2 linked regions of the Homo sapiens genome follow. The protein of the gene in region 2 purifies or fractionates together with the protein of the main gene of each other region. This does not show direct contact. Each region holds a gene or a part of one and is shown on either strand. Other genes may lie near its edges.

Evidence for each region. The genes of interacting proteins can lie anywhere in the genome.
Region 1: the proteins of ST8SIA3 (region 2) and NRP2 purify together in Homo sapiens (affinity purification with mass spectrometry; 2 studies listed by BioGRID and IntAct, with this or other methods). This does not show direct contact.

What each region holds. Positions count from the first base shown.
Region 1 is NC_000002.12:205,741,482-205,748,507, reverse strand, and holds part of NRP2 (neuropilin-2 isoform 2 precursor), read right to left. Parts: intron 5,306-7,026; coding exon 4,956-5,305; coding exon of another isoform or gene 4,929-4,955; exon of another isoform or gene 4,810-4,928; intron 2,763-4,809; coding exon 2,618-2,762; intron 1-2,617.
Region 2 is NC_000018.10:57,348,652-57,355,556, forward strand, and holds the start of ST8SIA3 (alpha-N-acetylneuraminate alpha-2,8-sialyltransferase ST8SIA3), read left to right. Parts: upstream 1-3,905; 5' UTR 3,906-4,195; coding exon 4,196-4,374; intron 4,375-5,750; coding exon 5,751-5,873; intron 5,874-6,905. UniProt on the Homo sapiens protein: Catalyzes the transfer of sialic acid from a CMP-linked sialic acid donor onto a terminal alpha-2,3-, alpha-2,6-, or alpha-2,8-linked sialic acid of an acceptor, such as N-linked oligosaccharides of glycoproteins and glycolipids through alpha-2,8-linkages.

The sequences.
Region 1 (7,026 bases), on a different chromosome or scaffold from region 2:
CTGCCTTTTGCTCACAGTAAATAGCAAATAACCTCGAAGTGTCCTAATTTGTAAGTTCAAGTTTGTCACTGTGTCATAGAAACTCGATTGTAAAGCAAACTATGGGGCAGTAAGGCAAAACATAATTATTTGAAACACAAACCAACTAACAGGTGAAGCAGCCCTGTCAAAGTATTTAGCTGCAGCAGCTCAGCCCAGCCCATTATTTTTCCTGTTATCCTTTGGGATAGGGATGAAGAAGTGAACCGAAGATGAGTGTGAGAAACAGATGGAAATTCGAAAAGCAAACATAGCCACGTGACCTATGGAGAACAGTTTCTGGAAATGTTAGGTAGCAAAATGGGTCAGCTGATTGGTGTAAAGAATGTTAAACCCAGGGGCCAATGAGGCACCGGAGGGCAGGGCGTGTAAATGAAAGTGGAGGAACGGCGGGCACCGAGGCCTCGGTGTTTATACTGTTTGTACTATGTTTGTACTGGGTGCTCCAAGGTAACTGCCCATCAAACAGCAACGCTACCCCTGAAATTGAAACCAGATGTCAGAGACTTCAAAGGAAAGGAGGCTGGGCAGAGGGGAACGCTCCTCAACTCTGATCTTCCAAGGAATGGCCAGGCAGGGCTTTGAAATAAGAAACCTGTCACTGACCATCACCAGTGTAATTTGGGGCATGTTGGGATTGGGGAGCAATGAAGGAAAGAGGTCATTAGCAACTGTCCCACTGGCCAGACTGGGAGGGCATGGCACTGAAGGGCAAGGGATGGGGGGAAGAATGAGGTGGACTTCATCCAGCTGAGTGACCTCTGGCAAGTGACTTCTACCTTCTGGGGCTGTTTCCTTGTCTATGAAAGAGGAATTGGCCCAGGTCTGTGATATTTCCCAAACCACGCATCACTCTCATCATTGGGTTGTGGAATCCGTCGAATAGGTCATGACCAGCTTTTAAAACATACCGACTATAATATTTTGGAGTGCACTTCCATGGTTAAGATGACCATTGCTTTGGGAACCTTTTGTTTCAGTTACAGTTATTTATCATAACAGGTTTGCTGGGTGCAGGCAGTAGTCTAAGTATTTCACATCCATTCATTCATTTAATCCTCACAATGACCCTATGGGGTAGACAGACTATTGTCCTCTCCATTTTTCAGCTAAGATAACCAAGGCGCTGAGAGACTAACTTTTCTGAGGTTATGCAGCCAGCCAATGGCAGGGGCAGGACTTGAACTTGGCAATCTGTCTCCAGAGTCCAAGCACTTACCCATACACTGTACCCCGTATACACCACTGTGTGTGAGTGCTTATAAGTGAAGCGGGTTGTGAAGGAAAATTATTTTAAATTGTGTATCATGGGCAGAAGTGTGTGAAAGCCACTGGCTTACAAGCTCCTGGATCCCCTACAGCGCTGAGCCCCTGATTCCAGGGCACATAAATGAAGCCAGCTTGTATCGGGGGGAGGTTTTCTGCACCTGTGAGAGGACGGGTGACACACGTTTAGCAGGCTGCAGGGAACTTTGGCCTCATCCCCAGGTAATGGGGAGTTAAGTGTCTTCCTATGAAGATGTGTTCGCTGGGGCTGCCTTCAATTCAAAAGTGAGGAGGCTAATTTGGGCCCAATTCCCAGCCCGTGTGCCTCAACAGGGCTCCTCTGCGCTGCTGTAGCCAGCATACAGGCAGCATTTTTCTCCCTGGGAGCCAAAAGCACTTCTCCGACATGCCCTTATTAATCCCTCATGCCATCCTGCCGGCTGAGCCCGTGACAGGTACGGCACAGACAGGAAAATGGGGATACCTGGGGCTCTGGCGGAGGAGGGCAGGATAGCTCAGGCTGGTGGCTGCTCCTGCTGGCATCAGGCTCAGTCCCTGAGCCCCAGTGGCTCCCACAAACTCCTTTTGGCAGGCAGTGAGTGAGCTCTGGGTAAGATCTGGTGCCAGCTCTGCTGAGGGAGGAGGGCTGGCGACCCAAGGAAAGGAAGGTAGGGCCTGACTCAGAAGGGCAGGGCCCTCCCTCGGAAACCAGGAAGGCTGGGCACCCTCCGTGGGCCTCACCCTCATTTGGAATGATGAGAGGTGTTCCCCAAGGCCTGGGCCACCTGGCAGGAATGAGCAGGACAATGAGAAGGAGTCCTGCCCCCATCAGCTCCCTGCAACAGGGTCCCTCCTGAGCAAATAAATGCCTTTTACAGATGTGGCTCCGAAATGAAAATGAAGTCTCTTAGCCACTGACATCTGGAGGCCAGATTCAGACATAAACCGATTACTTTATTATCATGAGGGGTTTTTTTCTTCCCTAAATCAACAGCCACAGCCCTCTGGCCTGAAGAGCCAGGGTCTAATTGAATTTGGGTGGGTGGTGTGTGGTTATGATTTGTTTTTGAGAGACTCGGGTTGGAGAACTGAAATGATCCCTTAAAAAAGACAAAGTACATCCCTTGAGAAACTGTCCCAAGTCCAGAGGCTGCAGTACCCGTGGTCTGAGGCAGGAGAACATGGCAGGGGTCTGCAGCATTTCCAGCTCCTGGGATGGCTGCCCCCTCCACAGCCCTCCCAGGGCCTCGTGGGATGCCAGGGTCAGAGGACCATGTGGGTGAGATGCAAAGAGGAGGAAATGTCATCTTACCTGTCCAGTCACAGCCCAGCACCTCCAGCCGCATCCCAATCCCCGCCGGCGACCACCTCTCCGGGTATACCCGCACATACTGTGCCGGAATGGGGTCAAACCTTCGGATGTCAGGGGTGTCATAGTGCATGTTCCCTTCGAACAGCTGCAGGGAGAGAGGCCACTCAGCCCTTCTGGTGTGGGACCCAGTCCCTATCACCTTCTTCCCTTTCCTTCCCCTTCTCCTCCCTGCCCCGCACGTCCTGCTAGGAAGGCAGCTTCCTAGTTGATTCCTGGTCACTGGGACATTCTGATCCACGCGAGCTTCATTTTCAGACCAAGGATTTTATTCATTTGGAAGGTGGTTATGGACCCAGAATTATGGAAAATAGGAAGTAAACAAAGGTGGCAATTTCCAGGTTGTGTCTTTTACCTGGTGACTAAAATGGAGTATCTGGGGAAGAATTTGGCTCCAACTGCGTTTTCAGCTGACTTTGGCTAGAGAGGGGGGAAGGCAGTTTGGGCGATCTTTGACCGTTCTGAATTCCTGGTCTACAGGGAAAGGAACACTTCTTTTTCTAATGTGTGAAAGCCTCCATTGAGGTAACCCAAGCTGACTGATAGTTCCTAGCTCACTGAGAACCTTACGGGAAAATGACCCCTAGGCCAATGACACTGTCTTCTGGTCACACATCGATAGTCTTAGACTGTTTCCCAAACCTTTGTTTAGGGAAAGCACTCCTGTCAAAAGAAACCTCACATGGAGCCCCAGTACATAAAACTGATGATGCGGGGAGCAGGGGGCTGCTTTGGAGGACCAGCCTAGAGTACACTTGGAGACACTCATCCGGGGGAAGGACAGGAGTGGGTGGCCAGGGCCTGCAGCTGATTAGCCCCCAGAAATTCAGCAGGACCGCTCCAGTTTTCAGGATGCCCTGCGTCCACAATTCTGAACCAGAAGCACTGTCTCGGATAGGGCTGTCTCCCACAATGGCAAAGATCAACTTCTTTCCCAAGAAAAACCAGGCTCAGCTCTCCATGGGGAAGCCTGCGGTCCAACTTCTGCTCCATCGATGCAAGGTTCCAGTTACCAAGCCCTGAGCCTTTCTAAGCCTCTGGAGTTGAGAGCTGGGAGTTTACCTCAGCATCGCAAAACCTCCAACCCAACTCTTGCCTCTGTATTCAGAATGGAGACATTTGCTTAGCAAAGGTGGCCCCGAGACATGCAAACTCCCTCCTTTTTTAGGGACCTGTTCTTTTGAGAAAAACAAGGGGTAACTAGAGATAAGAATCAGAGAGCCTGGCCTGCCAGGAGACTGATCTGGGGAGGGACAGAGGTATGACGTCTCCTCCCCTTCTGGGGCTCCTTGTGTCTGTGTTGAAGGCTGACCTTCACTCTGGTGGCAGGGGAGTAAGCTGTACTGGCCTGAGCTTCTGGCTCGGGGTGAGTTTCTCTTGCTTCTCCCTTGCCTCAGTCTGAGAGGCCGGAAAGATCTAAGCAGTCAAAACTAGGAGAATACAAAGGAATGCAGCGACATTCAGAAAAACATCGTTATTTTTGGAAGTCATCCTCTAGTTTCTATAGCTTGGCCTCCAAAAACCACATCCCCTTTAGATGTCTGGCCAATTTCAAGGAAACTTTATCTGAAAGAGTGTATAAAGAGTGTTGAACTTTATAAAAAGGCAGTGTTCAGTAGGGGTTAGGCATCTGGACTTTGGAGTCAGACTTCCGGTTTCTGAATCGGCTCTATCACAGGTGAACTGTGTGACCCTGGGCATGATATCAAGTGTCAGTTTATCATCTCTAAAATGGGAGTGACAAAAAGATCTACTTTGCACAGATGTTGTAACGATTAAAAAAGAGTCCAGGCCGGGCGCGGTGGTTCATGCCTATAATCCCAGCACTTTGAGAGGCCAAGGCAAGTGGATCACTTGAGGTCAGGAGTTCGAGACCAGCCTGACCAATACGGTGAAACCCCATCTCTACCAGAAATACAAAAATTAGCTAGGTGTGGTGGCGGGCACCTGTAATCCCAGCCACTCAGGAGGCTGAGGCTGGAGAATCGCTTGAACCCTGGAGGCGGAGGTTGCAGTGAGCCGAGAACAGGCCACTGCACTCCAGCCTGGGTGACAGAGACTCCATCTCAAAAACAAACAAACAAACAAACAAAAGAGTCAGAAATAAGGTATTTAGCACAGTGCCTGGCACAAAGTAATCTCTCAAACGATATTTGTTTTATTGGATTTCAGGAGTTGGATGACGACTGTTTAGATGGGACATCATCAGTCTCAACTCCCTGTACCACACTTAGCCTCCCTGTTGAGGGTAACGTTACAGAGGCCTCCAAGAACAGCCTACCTTTGGCTGCTGGGTCCTGGGGTCCTGAATGTATTCCCAGTCCTTGCCGTTTAGGCTGTAGGAGACTTTGAACTTGCGCACAAATGCTCTGGCTTCCACAGCAGTGATACTGTCTCCTCCGCGGGCTCCCTGGATGATGACACCTTTCACTGTCTTGGGTGTTCCCAGATCTACCTGAAGCCACTCCTCACCGGGCTGGGCCTGAGGGATTCGAGGGAACCAGCCCGAGCGGCTGCTAACCAGGCGGGCTGCACTGGGGCTCCAGAGGTATTCCTGGGTGGAAGAGGCGGAGATCTGGGAGTCTGCAATGAGGCCTGAGAGCATCCCCAGCATGTTGGAGCAGGGAGCATCTGCAGAGAGGAGAGGAAGATACAAGAGGTCATGGCTGACACCTGCTAACCAGGGACCACCCGCTATAAGAAGGGAGCTGCAAAAGAGCCCAACTGTCAAATACTAAGTCAGCACTAATTTCTTTGCATGGTGAATGTGTACAGCACTGTGGTTAAGAGCCTGGACTCAGAGCTAGACTGCCTGTGTTCATGTTCACTCTGCCACTTACTAGTCAGAGGGCCTTGGGCAAATTATTTAATTGCTCTTTGCCTCAGTTTCCTTAGATCTAAAGGGGAGCTAATAGAGGTGCCTACCTCTTGAGGGCTGTTGCAAGGATTCTGTTAGTTACTAAGAGCTCACAGGATGGTGCCTGGCATATTTAAGTATCCAATGGCCATTAACTATTTGTGCTTACAGCTCTAACCAAGGACTCTCAGAATGTGTGTCTGCACATCCCTGTCGATGACACTAGTCCCCACTGACCCTATCAGGGACACTGAGAACAGGGGAACTGAGCTAAACATTGAATTATTTCCTAGTAATTGTTTTGCCAAGTAGAAGGAAACCTTCCTGGCATCAGTATCAGGTCTTTACTTCCCAAATAACTGCTCTTTACTGCCTTGGATCCTTCCCACATGCTGTTCCCATTACCCCAAATGCTTTTCCCTTCAGTCACCCCCAGACTAACATTTTCTTACCCCCAAGCTCAAGTGTCATATCCACAGAAAAGCTGTTCCCAAATTTTCAATCCTCACTAAATTGGTTTCCCTCAGAGCACCCTGTTCTTTTCCTTCATGTGCACATTCTAGTTTATCCAGTACTTGCATTTGTTTATTATCTATCTTGCTCAGTAGCCTGAAAGTTCTACGATGTCAGAGACCCCATCTATTTTGTTCCTGTCTCTATGTCCCATTCCCAGTGTGTGCCTGGCACATCAGATGTGTGGAACAAATGATTGAGTGGAGAATGCATGAATAAATGATGTCAGGCAAGGCAGGGTCTATAGTCAATGTGCATTTCATACTTGCAAACTGAGCTATGGATAAAAAAGATCCTCCACGTTGTTCCCCTTCTTCAAAATCACTGGTTCTCTCCTTTCAATCTTCCAGAGAATGACCTCTACCTAAATCTTTGCTGATTATCCTGGAACAGCAACAGGGAAGGGACAGAAAATAGTCCCCTAGACAGGATTAGCATAAACTGATCCCATTAGAAGAAAATGGGTCTTTGTGTAAATGTGGTAAGAGCAGAGAATTTGAATTGAGAAAACGTGGGTTCAGATCCTGGCTCTGTCACCTCCTAGTTGAATGACTTTGGGCAAGCTATTTAGCCTCTTTGAGTCTTGGTTTCCTTATCAGTCCCTGGCCCACCTTACCTCACAGGGTTGTTAGAAAGTGTAGGCAAGATGATAAACAAGAAAGGCATGTGGAGATGCAGAGACTGTACAAACACAAGGTGTTTTAACTAGAAACCTCAAACAGGGTCAGACCTTGGAGCACTCCCTGTCAGAGCTGGAATGATTAGGGGAAAGGCACGTGGATGGATGTACACTGAAGACACTTCCAGGTCAAAGAGGCAACTTGCCTGCCCTGGGCTGAGCCCACAAGATAAAGGGGATTGGTCTGTCCATAAATTTCTGGGGCTAATCCAGCCATCATCATCTCCCATCTGCACCCCCTGCATTGCCTCCTATAATGTCCCAACTCCCACTCTGGTCTTCTCCAATCTACATGCCTTGGGT
Region 2 (6,905 bases):
TCTCGGCTCACTGCAACCTCTGCCTCCTGGGTTCAAGTGATTCTCCTTCTTTAGCCTCCTGAGTAGCTGGGATTACAGGGGCCCACCACTGCACTAGGCTAATTTTTGTATTTTTAGTAGAGACAGGGTTTCATCACATTGGCCAGGCTGGTCTCAAACTCCTGACCTCAAGTGATCTGCCCGCCTCTGCCTCCCAAAGGAACAATGTTGTTTCTAACAAAATACACCACCTTTCCTGGCCTTCCCACCTAAATGGGTTCCTGGAAATTGTTCTTGGCCAGTATGGGTTGGTGAGGGGCTAGCCAGGGAGCAGAGTCATGTTCGCAAAAGGTGGGCACTCATGAGAGTGGAAGAAGGGAAGTAAGTTCCTATGTCTAGAATAACACTCTCCTAGAAAACATTACATCTGGGGGATTTTTCATTTCTGTGCTTCTTATTTTCACTCGCCTATACTCTTGCACAGGATTGATTTCCAATGAAATTTGATAAGTGATATTTTGTTAAAATGTCCTGATTTTTTTTAATTATTAAATAGCTATAATCCCAGGCCTGAAAAATCCCTTATCCAGTAGCTACAGTTGTTTTTTGAAGCACCGCCACCAAAATTATTCCCCTGGTAATTATTGAGCAATCCGTTTTCACCCATAAGCCTGTCACATGTAATAAGGATGCCTGCCTGCCTGTTTATTTTCTGGCTAATTTGGTCCCTTTACATCATGTGACCTTCAGTGGCCTGTATGCAATATGAAAATCGTCCTCCTAGGACTTTCTTTAGAAGGTTCACAGAGGTGTGCTAAGCATAAGTAATACATCAGTTTTTAAATCCAGGCAGAGCGAACCCATATCAGATGTCTCAGGAAAGCCTGCAATGCTGTTTTATAAAGGGAACAGAAGAGTTTCTTGATCTTTGCTATTCTCTGCAAGAAAATATCTCACCTAAGTACATCCTTTCGTATGCACTCTGTAGCAGGACATTTACAGGGTCAGAGAAAAAGACACTAAAAACTTACCCAAGCTGTTAGCTCATATTTATTAACTGCTTAATATAGGCCAGGGTGCAAAGGCCTTTATATGCTTTGTTTAATCTTCCCCCAAACCCTGGGAGATTTTTATCCCAGTTCTGCAGATTAGCAGACTGAAACACAGAGAAGTTGTAACTTACCCAAGGTCACCTGGCTGTGGATGCCAGAGTAAGCATTTATTTTAATTGATACATAATAATCATACATATATAGGTACATAGTGATATTTTGATACATACAATACATAGTGATCCCATCAGGGTAATTAGCATATTTGTCATTTCAAACTTGTATCATTTCTTTGTTTTGGGGCATTCAATATCTTCTCTTCTAGGTATATGAAAATATACAATACATTATTGTAACTATAGTCATCCTATAGTGCTATAGAACACTAGAACTTATTCCTTCTATCCAGCTGTAATTTTGTATCCTTTAATAAATATTTTATCCTCTCTCCCCCGTACACTTCCCAGCCTCTAGTATTCTCTGTTCTACTTTTTACTTCTTTGAGATCAGCTTTTTTAGCTTCTGTGTATGAGTGAGAACATGCGGTGTTTAACTTTCTGTTCCTGGCTTATTTCACTTAACATAATGTCCTCCAGGCTCATTCCTGTTGCTGAGAATGACAGAATTTCATTCTTACTTATGGATGAATGGGATTCCTTTATGTATATATACCACATTTTCTTTATCCATTCATCTGTTGTTGAATACTTGGGTTGATCCATATCTTGGCTATTGTGAACAATGTGGCAATAAACATGGTGGTAGATATCTCTTTGACATACTGATTTCCGTTCCTTTGCATAAACGCCCAGTCATGGGAATACTGGATCTTATAATAGTTCAGTTTGTAGTTTTTTTCAGGTACCTCTGTACTGTTCTCCATAGTGGCTGTACTAGAATGCATTCCCACCAACAGTGTATACGAGTTCCCTTTTCTCTGCATCCTTGCCAGCATTTGTTATTTTTTGTGTTTTTGATAATACCCAGAGTATGCTTTTGAAGTCAGGTCTTTCTGGCTCCACAGTCTGAAGGTGTAACACTACCCCAGGCTGCCTCTCCATAGCATGTTTCCTGATTTCTGGTTCAAGAAGACTTTTTCTAACAGGTGTCATTCCTAGATGGCTCTCTTAAGATCTTACTCCCTTTGGCATTTTACACCTTACTCATACAATCATTTTTAAAAAATAGCAATTTAAAAAAATACAGTTCAAGTGTTCATCATATCCAGGCATGCAAGCCTTTTCTAAATTTTTTTAAATAATAAAAAAGCCCCACAGAGGAAAGGAGGTTATTTGTGTCCTCCTGACACACACTTTTAGATTTTGGTTAAAAAGTCTCTAGTGGGTGCAAAGTGACCCCCTTTGTCACTGGAAACAAATAGGAGCATTCTTTGTGCCACTGTCCACAACCACACAGATATGTTTCCCAAGGGAGCTCATCAGGTCTTCAAACATTTAGCAAGCATGACATGTGTAAGAGACAGTATTGGAGAAGTAAGACAAGCCTTGCTCTGCCGAAGCTTACAATCCAGGAGCTCACCCCTTCAAGGAATTTACAGCCTCCAGACAGATAATAACATTAGGTCCATGAAAGCCTACAAGGCAAGAAGTTCAGGAGAGAAAGAAGTCATAACCATCTTGGAAGAATCTCAACTTGTTTTATCAGAACTCAAACGCCAATTTCTCACCCCTAGCTTCCCTCATTAGTGCTTATTAACTAGTATTGGGAGGACCAAGCGAAGAGTAAAGCTAGGGTAGCAGAGGCCATAAGCTAATTGCAAAGGACAGAGCTAAAGAAACATGCTAGTTTCCCCTGAGCACCCAACTGCATGACTGAAAATGGATTAATTTGTATTTCTAATGGATATACAAGAAACACGTGAATATGCTAAAATAAATTTAAGGTCAAGCAATGCAAAGTGTTAGTGCGTTTGCCTTCCACTCTCAGAGGCAGCCTCTATTATTTGGTTCTTGGGCTGCTTCATAAAAAGTTCTGTGTTTTTTAATGGCCTCAGCTTTTGGGAGGCTCAGGCCACCTAGCCCATCAGGAGACCAGGCCCGAAGGATGGATCTGAAGAGTGGGCAACGGAGAGTTAAACCAGGGCTGACTTCAACAGGCCCAGTCAAGTCAGGGGCAAGCACATTGTCCATCCACTGGAAGACGGAAAGGGGAGAGGAAGGCAGGCCCTCCCGACTCACAGGTCACCTCGCAACTTTGCTAGGCACTACCCACCCTTTAGGGATAAGTGAAGTATGTGGTGGGCATACAAGGCGCACAGGGGAGTCATTCTGGCAAATTCCAAGAAGGTTTTAAGGGCTCCCGAGGCAGGCAGGCCCAGTTGCTGTTTGGAGCTTCCTTTGGGGTGGGAGGATGGCGGGGGCAGGGGGCCGGGGCGGTGCCTTAACGAGGGGAGATGCTTTTAAATAGCTGCCTTCCAAAAACCATCCTCCCTGCTTCTTTGAGAAGCACCCAGCTGTTGTTTACCCTCCAGGACAGCAAATCCGGTTATTTGTCTCTCTATTCCGTGATATTATAAAGTAATGAATGGTCCATTAAACTAAGTTTGGGATCCCGTCTCCCCACAGCCACCTCCTCGCCGGCACCCTCAGCCGGGGAGGCCGTAGGCTCGGGCTGCAGCCTGGCAGCCTCAGTCCCCCTCCCTCCACCATTTCCCTCTACTCCCTCCCTCTCCTGCACCCCCTCCCCCCGGTTATTTGGGAGATTAGAGTTCATTAATTAAATCCTGTGCTTAGATCGAACTGTAACATTATTCCAATCACATTTATCTTGCAGGCGGCGGAGGAGATGGCAGCCTCGCTGGAAACGCGCGGGGGAGCCTGAGCCGGCGGCCGGGGACGCACGGCGCTGCGCGCTCCTTCGCCACGCCGCCGCGCAGCCCCTCCATCTTCCTGCTCGGCACCGGGCCCCGCGCGCCCCTGCCTACGGGGTCCCGCTGCTCTCCGGGGCTCCTGCCAGCCCCAACCCCCGGCCCCGGTGGCCTCCCCCCACCCCCGCCCGGGTCCCCCTCCTCCGCCACACGCGCGCGCGCTCACACACACACACACACACACACACACACACACACACATATATACACGCCAGCGAGCTGCTGGCCGCTCAATGGACCGATTTCCCCGGTTTCCCTGAACCCAGCCCAGCCCGGGATGAGAAACTGCAAAATGGCCCGGGTCGCCAGTGTGCTGGGGCTGGTCATGCTCAGCGTCGCCCTGCTGATTTTATCGCTCATCAGCTACGTGTCCCTGAAAAAGGAGAACATCTTCACCACTCCCAAGTACGCCAGCCCGGGGGCGCCCCGAATGTACATGTTCCACGCGGGATTCCGGTGAGTGCGGGCCTCTGTGTTAGTGCCCTCGGGAATTTGGTTGATGGGGTGTTTGGGGAAGGGAAGGCGTGGGGGAGGGGTGTTTTGGCCTCTCCGAGACTCTTTGGGCCAGATAACTGCGCGGTCCTTCCACTCCTCTCTCTAATTCTCCCTTCCCCCTCCCTGTTATTTTTTTTTTAACCCAAAGCCCCTAGAAGCCGCTGTCCAAATCGATGTGATTGCATTTCTCGTATTCTTCCTCAGCATCCCTTCCCTCATTTCAGAAATGGGGGTTGGGGGAGGCTTTCAGGAGGGTGAGGGTGGAGGGAAAGACGGTGTGTTTGTTCGGGAGGGGGCGGCGAGCAGAGATGGACAGGCGTGAGGGGAGCGCCCTCCCCGCGCCCTGTCCGCAGACTCCGCGGGCCGGGCCCGGGGCGGTGCTGGCGGTTTAATGGCGCAGGCGCCGGACTCCCCTCGCGCCCTCCTCCTTTACTCCCCCACGCCTATCAAAGGACACGCGGGTTTATTCTCAGGAAGCCCCTGGGGCGTTCTCTCTCAACCCTTTCCCCCGCAGCCACCGCCCCCCACCAGCTTTCCGGGATTTCTGCAATTCCCCCGCCCCCTGCGGGAAGCGAGCCTCGGAAGGGCCGCCCACCCTCGCCAGGTCGGAGTCACCGCTCCGCGCTGGGCCGGCCTGTGAAGGCTCCAGGCGCAGCTTGACGCCGCTCTGCGAGAGCCCCCGCCCCGCTCTGTGACCCCGGGAACTCTCCCAGCAGGGCCTCCTGACGGGCAGGTGGCAACTACAAAGTGCCACCTGTGGTCCAAGCTGGGACCGAGGCGAGGAACCCAGAGGAGCCTCGCCTGGACCGAGGAGCGGAGTAGGCCGGCGGCCCCCGGGGGTCCCCAGCCAAGTTATAGGAAGTGAAATCGGACGTGGGTTTGGGAAGGAAGAGGTTAAGGCAGGAACCACCCCCAGACTTTCCCTGGGTCTCCGGTTTCCTCTGCCCTTTCTCCAAAAACAATTCTATGGGGCTGCAAAGGCGTAGCGGGTCAGGCTGGCGGGGCGGCCGCTGTCCGCGGTGCTGATTCCCTGGTCCTCGCAGCGCCGCGGGCTCCAGCCCTGCGCCCGGCGTGCGCCCTGCTCTCCGCATGACGGCCATTTTATGGTCTCTCCGGCACCCGGAGGGATGGACAATGCAGATGGGGTTCCCTAGTTTTCTTTTTTTCTCTCGGGTGTGTGTGGGAGCAGAGGGTGGACCAAATGAGAGGGGCTCCGGGACGGAACGGAGCCCGCACGCGTACCAGCCGCCCTCGCCCCAGCCGCTGCACTTTAATGGCTACCTCGGCTTCCCCGAGCTGAGGCCAGCACGCTTGTCTGTGCTCATGCTCCTCTCCAGGTCACAATTTGCGCTGAAGTTTCTAGACCCGTCATTCGTGCCCATTACGAATTCTCTCACCCAGGAACTCCAAGAGAAACCTTCTAAGTGGAAATTTAATCGGACAGCGTTTTTACATCAAAGGTAGGATAGGAGGAAAAGATCCAAAAGGTGCTTTTAAGAATTCAAGAGCTCAAAACAAAACAAAACAAAAACAAGCAAACAAAAACATCTAAAACAACAAACATCTATACGCCCCACCCTCACCATCAGGTGTATCTGCATTGTTTTCTTGGCATGACTGCACAAAGCAATGATCAGGAACCTTCTCCTGTGTGTGTAGTGTCCTCTCATAAAAAGGACATATCAGGACCAATTTGAATAGCAAAAAAAAAAAAAAGCATTCCACTTGGGCTTGATTGAGCACCATGATTTACAGCTAACAAGTCTGGCAAGTACTGCCAAAGCCATCTATTTAAAAAAAAAAAACAGACAAAAGGTTAGTTGCAAAAAGACCACCCAATGCATTTTCATTTCCTCACTGAAAAAAACTTGAAAAATAGAATAAAGTGGTATTGTTTCTTTGAAACACACGGAAAATGCCATAATCTGTCTCCATCAAATTACTCGTGAAAATGCTGGCCCAAATGTATGTAGATATTTAACTATGGTTTTGTTTTGGTTTTGCCTGTTTTCATTGTCTTTACAGCTTTTAACTTACTGTAAAGGTACCTAACTTAATTCCTACTAATTGTAGCGGTTTCATTTTATACACATAAGATGGTTTTGAGGTTTTGTTTTTTTAGGTGGAAGAAGGATGAGATTTGTTCAAATGTATTTATTCTGCTCAGTGATTCTGGTCTACTCTTAGCAAACCACGATAACTCATTACTCCTTCCTTCATGGTGGGATTATTTTACTGCTAAATGGGATGTGAGCCATCTAGCGTATTCATTAGAAGTGTGAATACTTATTTTACAAACCACTCTATTTAGGGAGTTGTGTTTTGATCTTAGCATTTCTAGTTATTGCTCTCTCTCTCTTTTAAAAGTTTAATCTATGGGCAGAATTAAAACAAATTCAGTGGGTATTCATGGTCTCATGAAAATACTGTTCAGATGAAAAGTCAGCATACAGTCATATGATTAACATTTTAAAAACACTTATGTTTAATTA